Regions from separate parts of the Homo sapiens genome. Here all the other regions are linked to region 3. The links come from fine-mapping of genetic effects on gene expression. A gene starts in region 3. Each other region holds a variant in brackets. All regions are shown on one strand. Distances are from middle to middle.

The links. PIP is the estimated chance that this variant, and not a neighbour inherited with it, causes the effect.
Region 1: its variant is fine-mapped to the expression of ARPC3 in blood mononuclear cells (TOPMed, PIP 0.97).
Region 2: its variant is fine-mapped to the expression of ARPC3 in skeletal muscle (GTEx, PIP above 0.99). The same link has a PIP of 0.9 or more in lymphoblastoid cells.

What each region holds. Positions count from the first base shown.
Region 1 is chr12:109,791,797-109,799,941 of GRCh38, forward strand. TRPV4 (transient receptor potential cation channel subfamily V member 4) reads right to left here. Exons shown (of 16, transcript NM_021625.5): 6 at 6,818-7,116; 7 at 4,729-4,908; 8 at 2,533-2,691; 9 at 2,134-2,226; 10 at 1,731-1,804; 11 at 856-1,021; 12 at 567-633. Among named protein-coding and RNA genes, the nearest start is that of FAM222A-AS1, 22 kb to the left of the region's middle. The variant G/A (reference allele first, on the strand shown) is at 3,810.
Region 2 is chr12:110,514,835-110,523,016 of GRCh38, forward strand. It overlaps RAD9B (RAD9 checkpoint clamp component B), which reads left to right. Exons shown (of 11, transcript NM_001286535.2): 6 at 216-322; 7 at 3,842-3,948; 8 at 4,040-4,104; 9 at 4,960-5,082; 10 at 7,343-7,577. Among named protein-coding and RNA genes, the nearest start is that of RAD9B, 17 kb to the left of the region's middle. RefSeq lists a silencer at 455-698. The variant C/T (reference allele first, on the strand shown) is at 4,410.
Region 3 is chr12:110,447,077-110,455,258 of GRCh38, forward strand. It overlaps ARPC3 (actin related protein 2/3 complex subunit 3), which reads right to left and starts at 3,261. Exons shown (of 7, transcript NM_001278556.2): 1 at 3,179-3,261. The coding sequence starts at 3,184. It overlaps GPN3 (GPN-loop GTPase 3), which reads right to left. Exons shown (of 8, transcript NM_016301.4): 7 at 6,667-6,795; 8 at 5,410-6,020. The coding sequence ends at 5,958. RefSeq lists enhancers at 1,817-2,669, 3,375-3,474.

The DNA.
Region 1 (8,145 bases), 660 kb before region 3:
TTTTGAACTTGTGCTAGTTATTTAACCCTCCTAAGCCTCAGTTTCCTTTTCTATAATAGGGGATAATAAAGGCACTTAGCTTACAGGCTTGTTGGGAGGCAAGGATGGAAACGTACTTAGTCTGGTGCCTGGCACACAAATAAGAACTCAGTGGCCAGGCGCGTTGGCTCACACCTGTAATCCCACCATTTTGGGAGGCCAAGGAGGGTGGATCACCTGAGGTCAGGAGTTCAAGACCAGCATGGCCAACATGGTGAAACCCCATCTCTACTAAAAATACAAAAAAAAAAAAATTAAAAAATAGTGGGGCGTGGTGGCAGGAGCCCGTAATCCCAACTACGTGGGAGGCTGAGGCAGAATTACTTGAACCTGGGAGGTGGAGGTTACAGTGAGCTGAGATTGTGCCATTGCACTCCAGCCCGGGCAACAGGAGCAAAACTCCACCTCAAAAAAAAAAAAAAAAAAAAAAGAACTCAGCAAGGCTGCTATTGTCCCCTATACATCATGGCTACTGTTCCCGTCCTTGCACCACCCCTGCCAGGACCACCTGAGCACCCAGAGCTCACCTGAAGCGTAGCCGATCATGAAGAGCAAGTAGACGAGCAGGAATCGGAAAAGGTCCTTGAAGAGAATCTAAAGACCCCAGCGGGATTATGGAGGCAAAGAGGAGACACATGGTTTCTCACTTTCCCCATTCCTCCATCTCCACCCTGGTCCCACCCCAGTGTCCAGACCATGCCTCCTGCCCCCACGGTACCCAGCATCCTCAGGTCTGCAGGTGCATAAGTGTGCATGTGGTGTGTGTGTGACTCCCTCCAGGAACACACGAGTCCAGAGGGTCCTCCCAGCCCGTACCTTCTGGATCATGATGCTATAGGTCCCCGTCAGCTTCAGCCCACGGGTGAAGTAAAGGGCATTCATCCAGCCCAGGACCAGGGCAAAGACCATCACGGCCAGGTAGGCCTCGATCCCTGCCAGGTAGAGGGCTGCTGAGACGATCACCAGGACAGAGTAGATGAAGCTGCAGTGCAGCAGAGACCACAAGAGAGGCCAGAGGGGAGAGGGGACAATGAGGCTCTGGAGGGGAAGACACGCCTCCAAGCCCTCCAGGGTATCAGGACTTCCCAATGCCTTCTAGACCCCCAGAAAAGAAACAAAGTGGATTAGCAGGGTTCCCCAGCATTCTGTTAACAAGAACATTCAATTAGCTGGCAATTAATCCTGAGGTCCCACAGGATCCTGAAGTGATGCCCCTTGGAATTGCTAAAGAAAGATTTAGTGGTGTTCAGTGGAGATTTTGTGGCTAAGTGAATTTCATCATTCTCCAACTCTAAGGGAAATGTGAAAGAGGTAACACACACTCAGTAACTCTCTCATTCTCTGTCCCAGGCAGACATCATTAATCAATCCCAACTCTTTCCCACTAAACACAGACACAGGTGCAAAATTCTTAACATGGCACTTCAGGCAGACATTAGCAATCATTCACCAGCATAAGAGGTTAAAATTATTTCTATCCATGTTGTATATGATAACTCCCTAGCAATCAGAATTTTTCTTGAACCAGAAGACCCTATTGTTTGTGGCTTTGTCCTGACTTTGGGTTAGAGCTGCCCAGGTTGGGTGCATTCATTTCTAACAGAATCACCTCTCTCCTGAATCTGGACGACCTAGCAGCCCAAACCCACCTTCCTCACCCAGAAGCTGCCGGCCCAGGGACCTCTACTCACTAGAGCAGCTGGAAGGAGCCATCAATGAAGAGAGAATTCACTCCAGGGCATTTCTTCATGAACAAGTCTTTGATCTGGAAGACAGGAGGGGGCACGTGAAAGGGGTGGGGCCAGCAGGAGAGGAGAGGAGGAGAGAGGAGACAGAGAAAGGGATAGAAGAGAGGGAGGCAGAGGCTGGTACAGAGAAAAGACAAAGGACTCTTTCCTGTTAGAAAAGGAGAAAAAAGCAGAGATGGAGAACGTGGGATTGGAGGAGGTAGAAGAGAAATGGGAAAATAAAAGGAGGAAGGAAAGGAGAAGGACCATTTGGAGGAGAGAGAAGAGAAAAAGAGGGAGAGAAAAGAGGTGCAGGAAGAGAAGAGGAGGGCAGGCAGGGTGGGGGGCACGGGGGCCAGGCACTTACGTTGGTGAAGAAGAACAGGACCCCAGTGAAGAGCGTAATGACCTCGCCAGCCAGCCGCAGGTAGTCCACCGTGGTGCGGTAAGGGTACGGCGGCTGGGGAGCAGCAAGGGCACACAGGTCGTCACCCAGCCCCTCCAACATCTGGCCCCCAATCCAGATGTTCCCCCAGGCCCGAAACATCGGCATCCCATGGAGCCTCCTCCTTCACTCTCTTCCTCCTGAGTCTTCCTCCTCCCAGCTCAGGGCCACCCGTGGATGCTGGAGGGCGCCTCCCCAACCTGTTCCTAAACCTTCTCCGGGTCCCCCTACAGGGGACCCAGAAGGATGAGGTTGTGCCCCAGTCCTGCATGGCTCAGCCCAGTGCCTGCCCCAGCCCCTGCCCGGTCCCCGGGCACTCACTGTGCCCTCCAGCGGCTGGTAGTAGGCGGTGAGAGTGAAGATGACCATGGCACACAGGTAGGAGACCACGTTGATGTAGAAGGAGACGGCCCCGAACTTGCGCCACTTGTCCCGCAGCAGTTCATTGATGGGCTCCACAGCCAGCATCTCGTGGCGGTTCTAAGAGAGGCAGGGTGGTCGGGGGCTGCCTTCCTGAGATGGGTGGGGGGTCCAGGCAGGCTGCCTCGGGTGTGCCTTCCCCCACCCTCCACCCGGACAGCGCTTTCTCTTTCCATCCATTCCTCAGCTGCATTCACGGATTCATGAATGGATTCAGCTGCCCAATTCTGCCTCAATGTACCTTTCCACCCTATTCTAGCATCACAGAACTCGGAACTGGAAAGTCCCTTAAAAGACATTTATTTTCAGGCCGGCCGCAGTGGCTCATGCCTGTAATCCTAGCACTTTGGGAGGCCAAGACAGGCGGATCACCTAAGGTCAGCAGTTCAAGATCAGCCTGGCCAATGTGGTGAAACCCTGTCTCCACTAAAAACACAACAATTAGCCGGGCGTGGTGGTGCACACCTGTAATCCCAGCTACTCCTAAGGCTGAGGCAGGAGAATCACTTGAACCTGGGAGGCGGAGATTGCAGTGAGCCTAGATCGCACTACTGCACTCCAGCCTGGGCAACAAGAGTGAGACTCCATCTCAAAAAAGAAAAAAAGACATTTATTCTCATGGTTCCCAAACTCCAATCTGTGGATAGTACCAAGCTGCTGGCCGCAAAATAATTTATGTAACTTGCTGCAAGTATAAATCCTGGCCTCCGCTCTCAGAAATTCTGATTCAGAGAGAAAGATTGAGAAATTTTGCCCAAAGATGATAAATGATTGACTCACCACAATTCTCCAATTCTGAACCCAGGGCAGACATCAATAATTGAGCCCTGCACAATTGTATTCATACAGTTCCCTGGGTAGACACTACTAATCAATCAGTTTGCACCTGAGATGCTAAACCTCCTGCCACCACTAATTTAAATCAAGATGGTCACTAATTCAAAAAATGAGGGAAATGAGGTCTTGCAAGGAAGCCAAGCTCACAGACCAGTAAGCCACAGGGCAGGGCTAGAAGGAAGACCACCTGCACCCAGTCCCCAGCATTTTCTGCTCCATTTTTATAGCTTCCTAGCCCTTTATTAACTTGAGTTTCTCTATAATCATGATTTGTGCAATAAAGCAGCCACAGAGATGCTCTTATAGTGTTATTCCTGATAAAGGCAGAAACAAACCCAAGC[G/A]ACCAGCAATAAGAGAACAGTTCATTTGAATATGGTATGTTTACATGCAGCGACAATATTACCAAAGAATATTTAAAAGTACAGAACGACGTTCACAAAATACTGCTAAGTAGGGAAAAAAAAGCTTGGTTTTTTGTTTGTTTGTTTGTTTGTTTATTTTGAGACAGGATCTCACTCTGTCACCCAGGCTGGAGTGCAGTGGCATGATCTCGGCTCACTGAAGCCTCGACCTCCCCAGGCTCAGGTGATCCTCCCACCTCGCCTCCCAAGTAGCTGGGACTACAGGCTCGCACCACCATGCCTAGCTAATTTTCATTTTTATTATTTTTTTTTGGTAGAGACGGGGTTTCGCCATATTGCCCAGGCTAGTCTCAAACTCCTGGCTTCAAGCAATCCGCCCACCTTGGCTCCCCAAAATGCTAGAATTACAGGCATAAGCCACCATGCCTGACCGAAAAAAAAGAGCTTTCAAAAGTTCATATAACAACCATGAGTAGTAAAAGCTGACATAATGTTTACTCTGTGCCAAGCCATTCTAAAATTAACCTCTTTGGTCCTCCCAAGAACCCCATGGGATATCCATGATCCTTATCCCCAGGTTACAAATGAAGAAGCTGAGACCCAGAGAGGTGGAGCCACTTGTCCTGAGACACACAGCATGTAAGTTACAGAGCCAGGATCCCAACCCAGTCCTACCTGCCCCAAAAGTCCATCTTCCCACAAGTCTTGCTCATTTCCTCACATGGCAGACACTGTTCTGGGCACTTAGTTGGCACCTTCTCTTGCATTCAGCCAACAGACCCACCACGTTGGGTCCTAGAGGCTGGGGCTGTCTCCCCCAGCCCAGCCCCAGGGCCCTGTCCCTACTCCCAGCCCTGCCCCTCCTTCCTCACACCCCATGCCCCCTCCTGGAGCCCACCTCAATCTTGCTGTTGTACACCAGGATCTCCAGCACGGAGGCCTCTTCCCCACACGTGTCCAGGGAGGAGAGGTCATAAAGCGAGGAATACACTGGCCCATAGGCCCAGTCCTTGAACTTGCGGGACAGGTGCCGTGTGTCCTCATCCGTCACCTCCCGCCGGATGATGTGCTGAAAGATCTGCACAGGGGGCCAGGAGGGTCAGGGGGCTCACACTGGAAAGACCCCCAGGGCTGGGCCCAGCTCAGCACATGACGCCTCCCCAGAAAACAGCTAAGCACCGGCTGCTGGAGGACCCTTTCCTCATCTTGTTTAATTCTTGCTCTTATTATCTTGGTTTACAGATAAAGAATGGAGGCTGGGAAAAACGAAGGGTGTTCCAGAAGCCACTTAACCAGTCAGCTGGAGCCAGACAGAACCTGGATGAGCCTTCAACATCTTAATTGTAATGAATATCTTCTTCATGCCGTTAAAATAGCAATGAATCCATCTTAATGACATGTGAATTATAATACTGACGATCACATGCGGTCCTTCCTGTTACCACTCCTCCTTCCCTGGCTTACACACAGGGAAGCGGAGGCACAGAGAGGGGTGGGAATTGCCCAAGGTCAGGCAATGTTAGGATTTTGGGGTTTTTGTTTTGAGACAGAGTCTCTCTCTGTCACCCAGGCTGGAGTGCAGTGGCGCGATCTCAGCACACTGCAACCCTCTCCTCCTAGGTTCAAGCAATTCTCCTGCCTCAGCCTCCTGAGTAGCTGGGATTACAGGTGCCCACTATCACACCCAGCTAATATTTTTGTATTTTTAGTAGAGACGGGGTTTCACCATGTTGGCCAGGCTGGTCTTGAACTCCTGACCTCAGGTGATCCGCCCACCTCGGCCTCCCAAAGTGCTGGGATTACAGGCATGAGCCACTGTGCACAGCCAGGATTTTGGGGTTTTTTGAGACAGGGTCTGGCTCTGTTGCCCAGGCTGGAGTGCAATGGCACTATCACAGCTCATTGCAGCCTCAACCTCCTGGGCTCAAGTGCTCCTCCCACCTCAGCCTCCCAAAGTGCTAGGATTACAGACACGAGCCACTGAGCCTAGCCAAAGCCAGGATTTAAACTGGAGCCTTTCTACTGCCTCAGGGCCATGGTATAATTGCAATTTTAGTAATTTTTGCTACATTTTTTTTTATTTTGGTTTTTATTTATTTGGGATCTCAAATAATCCAGGCTGGACTTAAACGATCCTCTCACCTCAGCCTCCCAACTAGCTGGCATTACAGACATGTAAGTGACACTTACTGCTTCTCCCAGGCTCCTTCCTAAGAGCCTTATGTGGATCACCGCATTTGTCACAACACCACACCAGAGGACACTCTTATATCCCCATTTTACAGACAAGGAAACTGAGGCACAGAAAAGGGAAATGAGATGTCTGAGGTCACACACTGGGAAGTGGTAGCGCCAGGGCTTGGACAGGTGCTCCTGCCTCTAGCATACTCCAGACTTGGTTCCCAATCCAGCGATGGTGCCCCCCAGAGGACAATTCAGCAATGTTCTGGAGATATTTTTGGTGGTCACAAGTGTAAGGGGAGGTGTTCCTGGCATCTGGTGGGTAGAGGCCCGGGATGCAGATCAATGTCTGGCAATAGCACAAGACGGTCCCCACCACAAAGAGCCTGCCGCCCAAAATAATCATGCTGAAGTTGAGAAACCCTTCTCCAGGCCCCATGCTGCGCGGCCCAGAAAAGGGAAGGAACTGGGGCAGGGCCATTCAACAGGTTTGAGGCTGGGAGCACCGCTGGGCTAGGGCCCGGGGACTCAGTTTCTTATCAGTGGCTCATCCTGGCTGGTGGGGGTGGAGTGGTGAACATCCAGTAGGGTGACATGAGGCGAGAGGCTCGGGGATGAAGCTAAGGAGCTTGGCTGGACACTAGGGAGCCATAGCAGGTTCTTGAGCTGGGACATCTGCACACTGGGGTTGGCATGTTGGGAGGTGCATGCACGTATTAATAATGAATACCAGCAGCAGACCCTCGTGTGTGTGTGCAGAGGGGTACGAGTAGGTGGATCAGCTGTGCCCCCAGCCGCACACTCACCCCAATCTTGCCCGTCTTGGCAGCCATCATGAGGGGCGAGAGGCCGTCGTTGTTGAGCACGGCCTCCAGGTTGCTGTCGGGGAAGAGGCGGGCACACTTGAGCAGCAGCAGGTCGTACATCTTGGTAACAAACTTGGTGTTCTCACGGGTGTTGTCAGCAATGGCCACCAGCGCATGCAGCACTGTGTTGCCTCGCGAGTCCTGGCGCCGCATGTCCGCCTTCTTGTGGGGGTTCTCCGTCAGGTAGTTGACAATGTGGGGCTGGTTGGTGCAGGCAGCCAGCGACAGGGGCAGCTCCCCTGCGGGCCAGGGTGAAGGGTGGGAGGTCAGCGAAGGGGGCCCAGGGTGGGACTCTGCCTGCAGACACTCGGGGGACGGACACCGTGGCGCTCTGAGGATAATGACGGAGACAGCACCAGCAGTGGATATGAACTGCACGTTTCTCTGGGTGATGCCAGGGAGATGGGGTGTGGCTAGTTAAGGGCACAGCCACGCGATTTGGAGGCTGTGAGGGACTGGACACATCCAATGATGGAATTCTTTTTTTTTTTTTTTTTGAGACAAAGTCTCACTCTGTCGCCTAGGCTGGAGTGCAGTGGCACAATCTCGGCTCATTGCAACCTCCACCTCCCGGGTGCAAGCAGTTCTTGTGCCTCAGCCGAGTAGCTGGGATTACAGGCGCACGCCACCACACCTGGCTAATTTTTGTATTTTTAGTAGAGGCAGGATTTCGCCATGTTGGCCAGGCTGGTCTCAAACTCCTGACCTCAAGTGATCCGCCGACCTCGGCCTCCCAAAGTGCTGGGATTACAGGCGTGAGCCACCGCGCCCAGCTGATGATGGAATTCTTTGTGTGACTTTGTCCCTGAGCTGCACATAATGAATGCCTTTAAGCAGGGGCAAAATTCAAAATATTTCATGAGTCCAGTGATGACAACGGCAGTGGTGGGCTTTGGGCCTGGTGATGGGGCTGTTGGTCCCAGCATAAACCAGATTAAAGCACACAGACAATACAGAGCTGGGCGCTGACATCACAGCCCAAGGGCCTCTCGTGATCCCCACTGCACAGCTGGGGAAGGTGAGGCTCAGGGAAGTGAGGTCACATGCCTGGAAAGTGCAGAGTGAGGATTTGGCTTTTTTTTTGTTCTTTTCTTTTTGCTTTTTAAAGACGGGGTCTTGCTCTATTTTCCAGGCTGGAGTGCAGTGGTGCAATCATGGCTTACTGCAGCCTCGAACTCCTAGGTTCAAGTGATCCTCCAGCCTCGGCCTCCCAAGCAGCTGGGACTTCAAGCACATGCCACCATGCCATCTAACTTATTTATTTATTT
Region 2 (8,182 bases), 68 kb after region 3:
TATTCTCTTGGCCTTCAAATGAAGTTATAATTTTAAAATATGCTGAAAATATAGCAGCTATGTATAAGAAAGAAGGTAGGAGTTTGGGTAAATTTTTCTAAACCCAGGCCAAGTAATTATTTATTTCCAGATTAGAGATTTGAGTCCCAGTTAATAAGGTATGTCTTTCTGTTTGTTTTTCAAATAATGTTAATACTGTTCTTTACATTTTATAGATTGCTTGCTGATGCCATTGTTCTTTTTACATCAAGTCAAGAGGAAGTTACTCTTGCTGTTACTCCACTGAATTTTTGCCTCAAGAGTTCTAATGAGGAATCAATGGGTAAAGATTGTATCTGAAATGGTGTTTTGATGGGTTATTACTTCCTGTCTCTCGATTACTAACCATACTGCAAATATTAGTGACATAATTTTATTCCTGTCTAAAAAGCAGTAAGATGTAGAAAGGTTGGAAAAAGCTTTAAGAGATCCAACAAGTTTAACACAATCAGCAATTAAAATATTTGGCTTTGAAATTCAGGGTGTTTTAAAACTAGGAGAATGGGGCCAGGTGCTGTGGCTCACGCCTGTAATCCCAGCATTTTGGGAGGCTGAGGCAGGTGGATTACCTGAGGTCGGGAGTTCGAGACCAGCCTGGCCAACATGGCGAAAACCCATCTCTACTAAAAATAAAAAAATTAGCTGGGTGTGGTGGCTCAGGCCTGTAATCCCAGCTACTCAGGAGGCTGAGGCAGGAGAATCGCTTGAACCCGGGAGGTGGAGGTTGCAATGAGCCAAGATTGCACCATTGCACTCCATTGCCTGGGCGACAGAGACTCTGTCTCAAATAAAAGAAAAAAGAAAATTTGCTACGGTCTTTTGGCACAACAAGCTGTTTGAGACTCTTTGACCTTAGATAATATGTTTTTGGTGACAGCAGTAAGGAGAGGATACAAAGGAAAGAACTATTATTTTAAAGTGAAAAACCAGGGCTTAAGTTGGGTCACATGACTTTTGTAGTGTTTGTGCCAGGTTCTGTTCTAAATAGTTTGCATTTATGAAGTCATTTGATCTTCATAACAACTCTAAGATGTATGTAGGTACTATTATTATCCCCATTTTACATATGAAGAAATTGAAAGCACATATAAAGCACATATGAAGCAGTTGGACACTTTGGGAGGCTGAGGCAGAAGGATCACTTGAGGGGAGTTACCAGCCTTGGCAACATAGTGACACCTCATCTTTACAAAACATAAGAAAAATAGCCAGGCATGGTGGTGCACACCTGTAGTGTCAGCTACTTGGTAGGCTAAGGTGGAAGGATTGCTTGAGCCCGTAAGTTTGAGACTGCAGTGAGCCATGATTGTGCCACTGCACTCCAGCCCAGGCAAGACAGCAAGATCTTGTCTCAAAAAAAAAAAAATTGAAGCACAGAGAAACTGTGGCTTGCCTGGTGTCACAAATTGCCTAGTGAAAGGGTCTGTTTTATGTACCATCATGCCATCTCTGAATAAAGATGGCCATTTAGTAGCCAGGAGAAACTGTCCCTTGTGAGTAGCTTTCTAATGAAGTTATAGTTGACTGGCAATCTAGTTGTTTAATCTTATTATTAAACTTCTTCTATGCTAGTATATTAGGAGTGACATGAGCCTTCTTGTTGGAGATGAATGTATATTTAAGACATTGTTTGATCCTTTAAAAAATATATCATTTGGCCGGGTGCGGTGGCTCACGCCTGTAATCCCAGCACTTTGGGAGGCTGAGGCAGGCGGATCATGAGGTCAGAAGATCGAGACCATCCTGGCCAACATGGTGAAACCCCGTCTCTATTAAAATACAAAAAATTAGTGGGGCGTGGTGGTGTGCACCTATAGTCCCAGCTACTTGGGAGGCTGAGACAGGGGATTAATCACTTGAACCTGGGAGGCGGTGGTTGCAGTGAGCCAAGATCACGCCACGGCACTCCAGCCTGGCGACAGAGCAAGACTCTGTCTAAAATAATAATAATAATAAATATGTATATATATATCACTCAATCTTTGTTCTTACTACTTATATAATTGATATTCATTGAAGAAAATTAAAAATACAAAAAAAATTTTTTAAGTCACCTGATATCCCACTATACAGAGATAAGCACTTTTAATAGTTGGGTATATCTCCTTCTATACTTTAGATCTCACAACAGGAGATTGAGTGAAGATAATGAAATACTATGAAACTATTAAAAGTAACATTGGCCAGGTACAATGGCTCACCCCTGTAATCCTAGTGCTTTGGGAGGCTGAGGCAGGATTGCTTGAGGCCAGGAGTTCAGACCAGCCTGGCCAACACAGCAAGATCCCATCTCTACAAAAATAAAAAATTAGCCAGGTATGGTGGCATGCACCTGTAGTCTATGCTGCAGCAGCTGAGGCAAGGGGATCACTTGAGCTCAAGATTTCAAGGTTGCAGGTGAGCTATGATCATGCCACTGTATTACAGCCTGGGCAACAGAGTGAGACCCAGTCTCAAAAAAAATTAATGGGCCGGGCGTGGTGGCTCATGCCTGTAATCCCAGAACTTTGGGAGGCCGAGGAGGGCTGATCACCTGAGGTCAGGGGTTTGAGACCAGCCTGGCCAACATGGTGAAACCCTTTCTCTACTAAAAATACAAAATTAGCTGGACGTGGTGGTGTGTGCCTATAGTCCCAGTTACTCAGGGGGCTGAGGCAGGAGAATCGCTAGAATCTGGCAGGTGGACCTTGCACTGAGTCGAGATCACACCACTGGACTCCAGCTTGGGCAACAGAATGAGACTCCATCTCAAAAAAAAAATAATAAAAACATTAAAGTAATGTTATATGTGTATGTATAAATACATTCCTCTCTCTCTGAGGGTATGTATCAGAGAGGTTTAATGAAGCAATTTTGTAGTGGAAAACACAAAACATTGACACACACACACACACACACACACACACACACACACACAAATAATTATAAAAATGTGCTTATTGACATGGAAAAATAGCCAAGATATATTGATATATTATTGGGTAGATTATGAAATGGTATGTAGGGTAAGATTGTACTTTCATTTAAAAATATGGCCAGGCGCAGTGGCTCACGCCTGTAATCCCAGTACTTTGGGAGGCTGAGGCGGGTGGATCACGAGGTCAGGAGATCGAGACCATCCTGGCTAACACAGTGAAACCCCATCTCTACTAAAAGAAATACAAAAAATTAGCCGAGTGTGGTGGTGGGCGCCTGTAGTCCCAGCAACTCGGGAGGCTGAGGCAAGAGAATGGCGTGAACCCGGGAGGCACAGCTTGCAGTGAGCCGAGATTGTGCCACTGCACTCCAGCCTGGGCAACAGAGTGAGACTCCGTCTCAAAAGAAAAAAAAAAAAAGTTAAAAATGTGCATGTAAGTGGCAGATGCCTGTAGTCCCGGCTATTCAGAAGACTGAGGCAGAGGATCACTTGAGCCCAGGAGGTCAAGGCTGCAGTGAGCTGTGATCATGCCACTGCACTCCAGCCTGGGCAACACAGTAAGACCCTCTCTCAAAAAGAAGAAAACAAAAAATTTATTAATTAACTTAGATAAGAAATCTGGTATTTAAACATAAACAGTTTAATTTATGTGAAATGGACTTATAGACCCTGAATCATTGGGTAGTTTAAGAGAAATGTAAAATATTAAATTTCTCTTTTGAACAAAGGCATTTAAAAATAGCATGCAGATATCAGGTGGGGAAGTTAGGGTACGTAGGGCAGGAGGAAATGGGATGGGATTTGGGAGACCAGAAAAATTCTTTTTTCCTCTAAATTCATCTCTGGAACTAATTTTATTCTTTATTTTCCCATAATATTAAACAGATTTGAGCAATGCTGTACACAGTGAGATGTTTGTTGGCTCAGATGAGTTTGACTTCTTTCAAATTGGAATGGACACTGAGATAACATTTTGTTTCAAAGAATTGAAGGTAAATAAAGATTTGTATCAATTTAAAATTCAAATTTTCACTGTAAGTTTTTATAAGGATTTTAAGTTTTTTTCTTCTTTTCTTTTTTCAGGGAATACTGACATTTTCAGAAGCTACACATGCTCCTATATCCATTTATTTTGATTTCCCTGGGAAGTAGGTCCTTGAGAATTTTTCTGAGCTTGTTTCTTTTGTTTTATATCAATAACAAAACCTTTTGGATCACTTTGAAATTAATTAACACCTCAGGAATACCTAAACTTTACTATTAATACTTATCAAACTAAAATTTTGAAAGATGCTAAAACATGGCATTTAAAATTTTCTTTTTTCTTTTTTCAGACGGAGTCTCACTCTGTCGCCCAGGCTGGAGTGCAGTGGCATGATCTCGGCTTACTGCAGGCTCTGCCTCCCGGGTTCAAGCAATTCTACTGCCTCAGCCTCCCAAGTAGCTGGGATTA[C/T]GGGCGTCTACCACCATGCCTGGCTAATTTTTGTATTTTTGGTAGAGACGGGGTTTCACCATGTTGGCCAGGCTGGCCTTGAACTCCTGATTTCAAGAGATCCACCAGCCTCGGCCTCCCAAAGTGCTGGGATTACAGGCGTGAGCCATAGCACCCGGCCTACTGTTTGTTGTTGTTGTTGTTGTTGTTGTTGTTGTTGTTGTTGAGATGGAGTTTTGCTTTTGTTGCCCAGGCTGGAGTGCAATGGTGCAATCTCAGCTCACTGCAACCTCCGCCTCCCAGGTTCAAGTGATTCTTCTGCCTTAGCCTCTTGAGTAGCTGGGATTACAGGCATGCACCATCATGCCCGGCTAATTTTTTTTTTGTATTTTTAGTAGAGACGGGGTTTCTTCATGTTGGTCAGGCTGGTCTCAAACTCGCAACCTCAGATGATCCACCCGCCTTGGCCTCCCCTGTTTCTTTTTAGTCCAGAATTAAGTATCATTTCTAATGTGTTTCTAATGTCCATCAGAAAATGAGTGTCACTGTTGCTCTGACTTGGCTTTTTTAGACCTCTGGCTTTGAGTATTGATGATATGTTAGTGGAAGCTAACTTTATTTTGGCCACATTAGCTGATGAACAAAGTAGAGCATCTTCACCACAGTCACTGTGTCTTTCACAGAAACGAAAAAGGTAAGACTGTGTTTTAACTTCTTTATTACTTGGGACAAGCCATCATAATCTTATTTTGAAATAATTCACTTGCATTCACTTAGGAAACAATTGAGGAGTGAAATATTAGTTAACAAATTTTGACTGAATACAGAAGAGCTGTAGTGAAACTTACCTGTAGCATAGAAACATCACCAATCTCGTGTCAGATATTTGCTTTTTCTGTTCTGACCAGAATTGAACAAGACTGTCTGGTTTATCTGTGTTGTTTCCCAGAACTCAATTCCAATTTTTAGTTTTTGTTGTTGTTGTTGTTGTTGTTATTGTTTTAGACAAGGTCTCACTCCCATTGCCCAGGCTTGAGTGCTCTGGCGCAATCTCAAGTCACTGCAGCCTCCATTTCCCTGGCTCAAGTGGTCCTCCCACCTCAGCCTCCCAAGTAGCTGGGACTATAGGCATGTGCCACCACACCCAGCTAATTTTTTGTATTTTTTTTTGTAGAGACAGGGTTTCACCATGTTGCCCAGGCTGGTCTCAAACTTCTGGGCTGAAGCCATCCACCTGCCTCAGCCTCCCAAAGTGCTGGGATTACAGGTGTGAGTCACCACATCGGGCCTTTAGTTTTTTTTTTTGTTTTTTTTTAGGGGTAATATAGTGTTTTCACAGGAAAGTCTATATTCACTTCCTAGAACTTTTGCTCAGATATAGGGATAGCCATTGCTTTCTTGCTTTCTTTTTTTTTTTTTTTTTTGTTGTTTTTTTTTTGTTTTTTTGAGACAGAATCTCACTCTGTTGCCCAGGCTGGAGTGCAGTGGCATGATCTCAGCTCACTAAAACCTCCACCCCCTGGGTTCAAGCAATTCTCCTGCCTCAGCCTCCCTAGTCGCTGGGATGACATGTGTGCACTAACACGCCTGGCTAATTTTTGTGTTTTTAGTAGAGACGGGGTTTCACTATGTTGGTCAGGCTGGTCTCGAACTCCTGACCTTGTGATCTGCCCGCCTCAGCCTCCCAAAGCGCTGGGATTACAAGCATGAGCCACTGCGCCTGGCTTTTTTTTCTTTCTTAATTTCTTTTCTTTTGGGGGAAGAATGATGCTTTATTGTAAAAGTTATTTCAGGAAATTTGGAAAATAGAGAAAAGTACAAAGAAGAAAATAAAACTTACTCATAATTGCATCACCCAGAGATAGCCACTGTAACATTCTGGCTCACTGCATTTTCTTTCAGACTTAATTTTGTGTATACTTGTATTTTCAAATTTTTTAAAAAAATTTTTTGAGACAGGGTCTCACTCTGTCACCCAGGCTGGAGTGCAGTAGCACAGTCATAGCTCATCATAGTCTCAACCTCCCAGGCTGAAGCATTCCACCTCAGCCTCCTGAGTAACCAGGACTACAGGCACCTGCCACCACACCCAGCTAATTTTTGTGTTTTTTGTAGAGATCGGGTTTTACCATGTTGCCCAGGCTGGTCTCTTAACTCCTGGGCTCAAGCAGTCTACCTGCCTCGGCCTCCCAGAGTGCTAGGATTACAGATGTGAGCCACTGCACCCGGCCTATCCTTGTATTTTAAAACAAGATTAGGATCATAGAGCATATGCGGTTTTGGTATTGTGGGTGTGTTTCAATATCACTGATAATGACTTGAAAACATAATTCTTTTTTTTTTTTTTTTTTTGAGTCAGAGTCTCGCTTTGTCACCCGGGCTGGAGTGCAGTGGCGCCATCTCAGCTCATTGCAACCTCCGCCTCCTGGGTTCAAGCAGTTTTCTGCCTCAGCCTCCAGAGTAGCTGGGATTACAGGTGCCTGCCACCACGCCCGGCTAATTTTTTTGTATTTTTAGTAGAGACGAGGTTTCACCATCTTGGCCCTGCTGGTCTTGGACTCCTGACCTCGTGATCCACCCCCCTTGACCTCCCAAAGTGTTGGGATTACAGGCGTGAGCCACCGTGCCCGGCCGAAAACATGATTCTTAATGACTGTACACAATTTTATCATATAGATGTATAGTAATTTACTTGACTTTTCCCCTAACTTGCTCCTGTTACCATATCACAAGATATTCTATGCACAATGAGTTGCTTTACTGAAAGATTGTCTGTCAAGAGAATTTATAAATGATCATATATATAAATTTTAACTTGCAACAATTTAGTTCCATGTATTTCAATATATTCCCTAATCCAGTGCTATCATTGTCATCCCACATTGTCCATTAGTTATATAAAAATATATTTCACAATAAACAGTTCATTCATTTAATGCCTATTAATACCTCAGGTCAGATCTGATTGAAAAAAAGGCTGGCAAAAATGTAACTGGCCAGGCCCTGGAATGTATTTCAAAAAAAGCAGCACCAAGAAGGCTTTATCCTAAGGAGACTCTCACAAACATATCTGCATTGGAAAACTGTGGCAGCCCTGCAATGAAAAGAGTGGATGGAGATGTCAGTGAAGTATCAGAAAGCAGTGTCAGCAACACAGAGGAAGTGCCAGGGTCTCTGTGTCTCAGAAAGGTAAAAGCATTGAGATTCAACCACATCTCAGTCAAGAATTCTCATCTGTCTCCCTTTGCAGTCTTCCTCCCCAATCCCCACCCAGCCATGTTCTGAAAATTGATTTTCTTATTTTTTGATAGGGGAAAAGTGAAGCTAGTCTGAATTATAGAATGAAGAAAAGTCTGATAGAGAAAAGTCTGATTTACAGAATATCAATAGAAAATAGTTAAATTGTTCAGTCAGTAATTTCTAACAAAGCATATTCAAGTAGAGGTTTGGGTCACTTGTTTCCAAGAATAAATTATGATTTTTTTATGGTATATTCTATCTTGAATAACAATAATATGCTGAGATCATATAAATAATTTGTTTCCTAAAATGTTTCCTTCTAATTTTACTTTTCAAATTTGTTTGGTAAATCTTGTATTCATAATAGTACAAACGTAAATTTCATCCCAACAAATATCACAAATTCCTTCATAGTGGAGTCCCAGTTAATAACATCTTATTCTATAAGATAGATGATAAGCTTTACAGAATGCTGTAGTGTTAAACCTTACGAAATCTACTGAACTGAAGGTAAGCAATGTATTAGAAACTGAAGTATCTCAAATATTGATAAT
Region 3 (8,182 bases):
TAAATCAGGGTACCCAGCCCCCAGCTAAACCAAGACCCAAGCACTATCTTTTCAGCTCTGCCACTTCATGGCGTTATGCTTTTGACCAAGACATCATTCTTCTTCTCTTAGCTTGTTTCCAAATTTGTAAAATGAGAAGATATATATTCCCTTCAGTGGGTAGGTGTGTGTTAAAGGAAGGGATAAAAAAAATCACATTTATGAGAGCATTTTGTATGCTGATTCTTAGTTCTGCTTTTTACAAGATGTCTGGCTTTTTATAAGTCAACATGGGTCCCATTCATATATTCATTCATTCATCAAATGATTGCTAAGCACCTTCTATGTGCAAGACACTGTGATATAGTAATATACAAAGTAGTACGATTCTGGTCCTTGAAGAGTAGAGAAGACAGACAGAAAATAATCACAGGATGGGATGGGCGGGGTGGCTCACGCCTGTAATCCAAACACTTTGGGAGGCTGAGGCGGACAGATCACAAGGCCAGAAGATCGAGACCACCCTGACCAACATGGTGAAACCCCATCTCTACTAAAAATATCAAAATTAGCTGGGTGTGGTAGTGCATGCCTGTATTCCCAGCTACTTGGGAGGCTGAGGCATGAGAATCGCTTGAACCCAGGAGGCAGAGGTTGCAGTGAGCCGAGATGGCACCACTGCACTCCAGCCTGGCGACACAGCAAGACTCTGTCTCAAAAACAAACAAACAAACAAACCCCTCCCCCCAAAAAAACAAACAAACAAAACCCAACAGAGTGAATCCAGGGTGCTCTATGTGCGATTGGAACCAGTACAGGGATTTAGAGTCCTTTTTTTTTTTTTTTTTTTTTTTGGAGACAGAGTTTCCTAGGCTGGAGTACAGTGGCAGGATCACAGCTCACTGCAGCCTCAAACTCCTGGCTCCAGGTGATCCTCCCACCTCAGCCTCTTGAGAGGCTGGGAGGACATGCACTACCACATCCAGCTAATTTATTTTTATTTTTGTAGAGGCAGGGTCTCATTATGTTGCCCAGGTTGGTCTCAAACTCCTGGGCTCAAGTGATCCTCCCATCTTGGCCTCCTAAAGTGTTGGGATTACAGGCATAAGCCACTGCACCCAGCCTAGAGTCCTGGCTTAAAACCTGGTTTTACCATTACTAGGCAACCTTGTCCAAATTAACTTCTCTGAGGCTCCGTTTCCTCTTCTGTAAAACAGGAATCATGGTACCTACTTCATAGGGTCGTTATGAGGATTAGATGGGATAATTTATAAAGTGTGTACCCCAGAGCTCAGGAGTCAAATGGTAATTATGGGATTCATAAAATATGCATTTGTGAGGCTGAGCGAGGTGGCTCATGTCTGTAATCCCAACACTTAGGGAGGGTGAGGCAGGAGGACTGCTTGAGCCCAGAAGTTTGAGATCAGCCTGGACAACATGGTGAGACTCTGTCTCTACTAAAAACACAAAAACTTAGCTGGGCATGGTGGCGTACACCTGTAGTCCCAGCTGCTCAGGAGGCTGAGGTGGGAGGATCACCTGAACCGAGTTTGTGTCACTGAACTGCAGCCTGAGAGACAGGGTCACACCCTGTCTCAAAAAAAAAAAAAATGTATTTGCAACTATGGCTTGCTCCTTTTCATCACAGGTATGCTTTATCTAAAGCAGCCTCCGCCTTCCCTCTCACCAACTGTCTTGTTACCCATCTAGCTTCTTTTTTTCCGGGGGGGGGGGGGGTGGTGGTACAGAGTCTCACTCTGTCACTAGACGAGTGCAGTGGCACGGTCTCGGCTCACTGCAACCTCCGCCTCCTGGGTTCAAGCGATTCTCCTGCCTCAGCCTCCCAAGTAGCTGGGATTACAGGCACGCACCACCACGCCTGGCTAATTTTTGTATTTTTAGTAGAGATGGGGTTTCACCATGTTGGCCAGGCTGGTCTTGAACTCCTGACCTCGTGATCCGCCCACCTAGGCCTCCCAAAGTGCTGGGATTACAGGCGTGAGCCACTGCGCCTGACCACCCATCTAGCTTCTTTATAGCATTTGTCACTACCTGACACTACCGTATGTATCTCCTTTATTATGTTTACACTTTTATTGTCTCGACTCCCGATTTGAATGTACATTCTTTAAGATTAGGGATTTGTTGAACTTATTTGCTGCTGTAAATACAGCCTGGCAGGCAGCAGGTGCTCGTTAACGTTTGTTAAAAATAATGTGTGAGCAGGCTGGGCGCGATGGCTCACGCTTATAATCCCAGCACTTTGGGAGACCGAGGGGGCGGATCACCTGAGGTCTGGAGTTCCAGACCAGCCTGGCCAACATGGTGAAACCCCGTCTCTACTAAAATGCAAAAAATTAGCTGGGCGTGGTGGCGCGCGCCTGTAATCTCAGCTACCCGGGAGGCTGAGGCACGAGAATTGCTTGAACCAGGGTGGTGGAAGTTGTAGTGAGCCGAGATCGCCTCACTGCACTCCAGCCTGGGCGACAGAACGAGACTCTCTCAAAAAACAAACAACAAAAAAAGTGTGAACAATCACATAATAACTGAACCACCTTTTCCCGAATCTGCAAAATGGAGACCATGACGGTGATAAATCTACCCCACAAACTGGCTGTCAGAAATTAAGTACAACCAGGCCGTCATAATTTTTTACTCCCACTCTGATGGCACACGAAAAAGGAAATCTTTGGAAGTCAGGCGCCGAACGAGTCTGTGAGGGCCCTAAACCCAGCTGGCTCCGGGATGGCCGCCGCTGCCGGGAAGTGGGTTCTGACAAATGACAAACAGCAGAGGGAGCCTGACCCCGGGGCGGAGGAGGAAGTGGGCCTGACAGAAAAAGGAGAAGCTAGACCCCTGGACTTGAAATATGAAAAATAAAAAGCGCAGCCCTTGGCTTCGCTCTCTAGTGAGGCTTTGGGAACCCTGCCGGAGTCGGAAGGAGTAGACGGAGAGAGAAAAGGGCCTCCTCACACACCCTGGACCCTTGGCCCACTCCTGCCGCGCCCCCGCCTCCCACGACTGGCACCCCCGGGCCGCCCCAATCCTTCAGCAACCGGTCCCCTCCCCTCGCCTCCCTCCTTCTCGGGCCCCAGCTTCCTCTCTGCCTTCCGCCGCCCGCTTCTCTCGGCACACACACGGTTTCTCTCTGCTCTTCGCAATCCCCGCTGTCTCCCCACACCGTGGATCGAACCCTCACCGGCATCTTGGCGGCGCCCGGGTTTCAACCCAGAGGAGCAGGATCCAGGTACAGCGGAGCGCTTCCGGTCTGGCAGCCTGGGCGAGGTAGGCGGAAGCGAAACGGAAGGGGCGGGTGCGGACGTGGAGCTTCCGGCCTTGCAGTTCCGCTTCTGGTTGCAGCGGCCGCGCGGATCTGAAGGAGGCGCCAGAGCACTAGGCAGGGGCCTTGAGTGGTGCAGCGTGAGGCAGCGCCCAGAATGGAGATGGGTCTTGAGGTTCCAGAATCTGAGATCAATCACCTCTTTTGTATTTTTTTCAAATGTCACCTTTTCAGGGCCGGGCATAGTGGCTCACGCCTGTAATCCCAGCACTTTGGGAGGTCGAGGCGGGTGGATCACCTGAGGTCAGGAGTTCGAGACCAGCCTGGATGGTGAAACCCCGTCTCTACTAAAAATACAAAAATTAGCTGGTCGTGGTAGCATCCCAGCTACTCGGGAGGCTGAGGCCGGAGAATCGCTTGAACCCAGGAGGCAGAGGTTGCAGTGAGCCAAGATCGCGCCGCTGCACTCCAGCCGGGATGACAGTGTGACTCTCTCAAAAAAAAAAAAAAAAAAAAAAAAAAAAAATCACCTTTCCTGTGAAGCATTCTCCGTTCATTCTATTTTCAGTTCACCCAACTCCAGCCCCATGCCTTATCCTTCTCTCCCGCTTTTTCCCTTAGTTCTTACGATTCTTGTATTTAGTTTACTCTTAGTGCTTGTGAATGCCAAAAAGGCAGCACTTCGTCCGTTTTGTCACCTGCGCCCGTAACAGTGACGGTATGTAGGAAACATCAATATTTGAGTGAATGAATGAACCCAATGCACTGCATCTAAAAATGGAGAAACTGAAGGGCACTGGACTCCAGGTTTGAATCGCAGCTCCAATACATACTAGCTCTGTAATTTTGAGCAAGTTAACTGGCCTGTGCTTCAGTTCCTCACCTGAAAATGGCAGTAACAGTATTTACCTCATAGTTTTGTGAGGATGAAATGAATTACATGTAAAATGCTTAGAACTTACATGCTTGGAGCATACTGAAAGCCCAGAGTTTTAACTTATTTATTACTAGAAAACTTCTTATGTTAAAAGTCAAGTTCATTGCTGCCTGAGAGCCATTTCTTCTGCCAGTTCCCAGCCTGAAATAGGACCCCATGTTCCCACATCTGATTTCACATTCAGCTGACTGGGCAAATAGCACCTTTTAGGCAAGGTCTTTTTTGACAAAGAGCCCAAAGTAGCCCCATAATCACTCTCCATTTCTTTTCTGCTTTTCTTTCCATCCTCTCTCTGAGGTTTCCTTCCTCATGGTCAGTCTCACAGGCCCAGCATGGCAGCCCCACGTGAGCAAGGCCCTGCCTGCACTGTGCATCCCTGTTCTATCCCCAGTGTCTGGCATCCACGGAACTTCAGTAAATTTGTGTAAATTTACTGAATTTCTGTCAGCCCTGCCTATGAGACAGTGAAATCCTCGAGGACTGGAATTGTCAGATTCATCTTTGAAACCCCAGTGTCCAGTGGGGAAGGCACTGGAATCGGGTCCTTCACTTTTTCTCCACAGGCACATACCATACTCTCTAGAAGCTAAACCAGGGAGGACCAAGGAAGAGGGCAACTGAAAATCTGCCTCTTCTTTCTTCCCCTCCCATGTGACAATAAGTTTCTAAGAATTAGCAACCCTGGGAGATCAGGCTGTTTCCACACTATCTATCCTCTAAGGGCCACAGGAAGGTCCCCAGGCAGCCCAGCACATCCCCATGTTGCCCACTCATCATGCTCCTCCCTGAGTGGACCATGGGGTAGACACCCGACCCTTCCCTCTAGCCTGGCCCCCAGGCATAAGCTACCACCGATACTTACAGGTCCTCACATTTTTTTTTTTTTTGAGATGGAGTCTCACTCTGTTGCCCAGGCTGGAGTGCAATGGTGCGATCCTGGCTCACTGCAACCTCCACCTTCTGGATTCAAGGGATTCTCCCACCTCAGCCTCTCAAGTAGCTGCGATTACAGGCACGCGCCACCACGCCCAGCTAATTTTTTGTATTTTTAGTAAAGACAGGCTTTCACCATGTTGGCCAGGTTGGTCTTGAACTCCTGACCTCAGGTGATCCACCTGCCTCGGCCTCCTAAAGTGCTGGCATTGTAGGTGTGAGCCACCACGCTTGGCCACATTTTGCTTAATTAAAATGAATCAAATTAGACACTGCAGTGTACTTGTTATCTAGGTCCAAGAATCATTAAAAACCTTTGTTTCTTTTATATATACACATACATATCTCAAAACATAGTTATTTTTACTTTTTAAGTTATATAAATAATATACATTTTCAATATAGGAAAATGGGAAGATACAGATAAGCAGTGGTCTTATATATATCCTTGCAGCTTTTTCCCTTCGGACATACATATTTTGTTACAGTAATTCCTGCATCTCAAAAATAATACAAAAAGTGAAAATAAGTTTAGACCAGCCTTAACCTTAGCTCAGGTGCTAATTTATATATAAATCTATGTGCATTCATTTCAATTTTGACTTACAAAATCTAAAGTGATGCTGTTATAATACTAAAAGATTCCACTTTAAACAGCAGCAGTTTCAGAATAATTAAAAATTTGATTCAGGCATGAGGCTGATAAAGAACGAAGTTTTACTTTTTTTCATTAAAATAAGTAGCTTTCTACTATTGCATCCTTTGAAGAGAAGAATGTTCTGCTGGTTTGGCCACAAGCTCTTTAGATGGTTACTTTTAGTAAACTCTTCATTCATCCTGGCATTCTTGAAAATATTCGTCAAACATAGAGGAAGACTCATCTTCACGTTCCTGACACAATGGAAACACAAAATAGAAAATATATTCATTTCCCCTCAGTCAGAACTAGTATGTGTTTATATATTTTTCAGGTAATACCCTATGTGGAACTAATTACCCAGCACCAGCTCCAGGTGCTGCTTATAGGTAACTGTTAATAGTAAGAAAAGGCATGATTGACAGATTTTTTTCCAGTTATGTAGTAAATTAATGTGCTTCTATCCCAGAAGCATTTCTCATTTGAATTTACATTCAAGACGATTCTTGGCTAATTTCCTGTGATAGTGCTTTACTTCGCTGGTAGTCTAGTGGTCAGGAAAATAAAAAATAAAAAAATAAAAAAATGCTTAGCTGATACTATCATTAGTCTTCTCAATGACATACGTGAGGGCAGCCCAATTTCACCTCCTCTTTACACATACACCCAAGCTCTAAGTACACACAGGCTTCATCATACTGCCTCAACAAAAGTAGAGTAAAAGTGATACTGCTTGTGGAGTACAGTGTTAATTTCAGAGATCACCCAGAAAAGCCCAGTTAACTGCCATCAATAAGACAAAAAACTAATTTAAGGAGTCGCCTGGATTATGCAAGAGTCCAGTGAGTGCTGGCAAATATTTTTATCAAAAGCTAACAAACACCCCAAACCAGAAATTACCTTTGGTTCTTTAAATTCTAGGTCTTCTCCATATTGAATGGCAAAATCAATATGCTGCAATACAATGTTCATGCTTTCTTCATCTGACTGATCGTAAGGTAAAAATCGAACCATGCTGTAGTCATCAATCTACAAGTTGTGGATTTCAAGAAAAGTTCATTCTGAAGTTGTGCAAAATACATAATTTTCAACTTATATTTGAGTTTTATAACCATTTGTACTTCTGAATAAAAACACTGATGTGTTTACAGGAAGAGGAGGAGAAGGGATAGCTAGACACAGAGAGTAAATCATTGATTTTTCTGACTTCTGATCTGCTAGAACACTTGTTAGCTTATTACTTTAACTAGACACTGTTTCACGGCTATTTATCTGAATTCAACAACCACTGGAAATTTCACAAGAGAACAAACAGTCCTGAACTCTCCAAATGGCTTGAAATAATAAGATGTTAGTTTATTTATTGGCCACTACCAATAACTACTTCTAAATTAAACTGCTGACTGACCAGCCCACAGCCCTTTTCCCTCCACTTTGCAGAAAATAGGGTTGAACTGTGCTTTTTATATGGCAAATGACTGGACACAGGCAAACACTTGACCAGGTGTTTAGGAAAAAAACCCAAAAAACTTCATCTTTTTTTTTCTTTTTTTTTTTTTTTGGGGAGACAGAGTTTCGCTCTTGTTGCTCAACCTCCACCTCCAGGTTCAAGCAATTCTCCTGCCTCAGCCTCCTGAGTAGCTGGGATTACAGGTGTGCCCTACCATGCCCGGCTAATTTTGTATTTTTAGTACAGACGGGGTTTCACCATGTTGGTCAGCCTGGTCTTGAACTCCTGACCTCAAGTGATCCACCTGCCTTGGCCTCCCAAAGTGCTGGGATTATAGGCGTGAGCCACTGCACACCTGGCGCCCTTTTTGTTTTTGTTTTTTTTTGAGATAGGGTTTCTCTGCTGCCTAGGCTAGAGCACAGTGACATGATCTGATCATGGCTCACTACAGCCTTGACCTCCCAGGCTCAAGGGATCCTCCCACCTCAGCCTCCACAGTAGCTGAGACTACAGGCGTGCAGCACCATGCCTGGCTTTTTTTTTTTTGAGACAGAGTCTTGCTGTTGTTGGACCGGGCTGGAGTGCAATGACAAGATCTCGGCTCACTGCAACCTCCACCTCCTGGGTTCCAGCAACTCTCCTGCCTCAGCCTCCCGAATAGCTGGGATTATAGGCATGCACCACCACGCCTGGCTAATTTTTGTATTTTTTAGTAGAGATGGGGTTTCACCATGTTGGCCAGGCTGGTCTCAAACTCCTGACCTCAGGTGATCCACCCACCTCGGCCTCCCAAAGAGCTGGGATTACAGGCGTAAGTCACCGCGCCTGGCCTAATTTTTTTTTGTTTTTGAGACAAAGTCTTACTCTGTCGCCCAGGCTGGACTGCAGTGGCATGATCTCAACTCACTGCAACCTCCGCCTCCCGAGTTCAAGTGATTCTCCTGTCTCAGGCTCCCGAGTACTAGG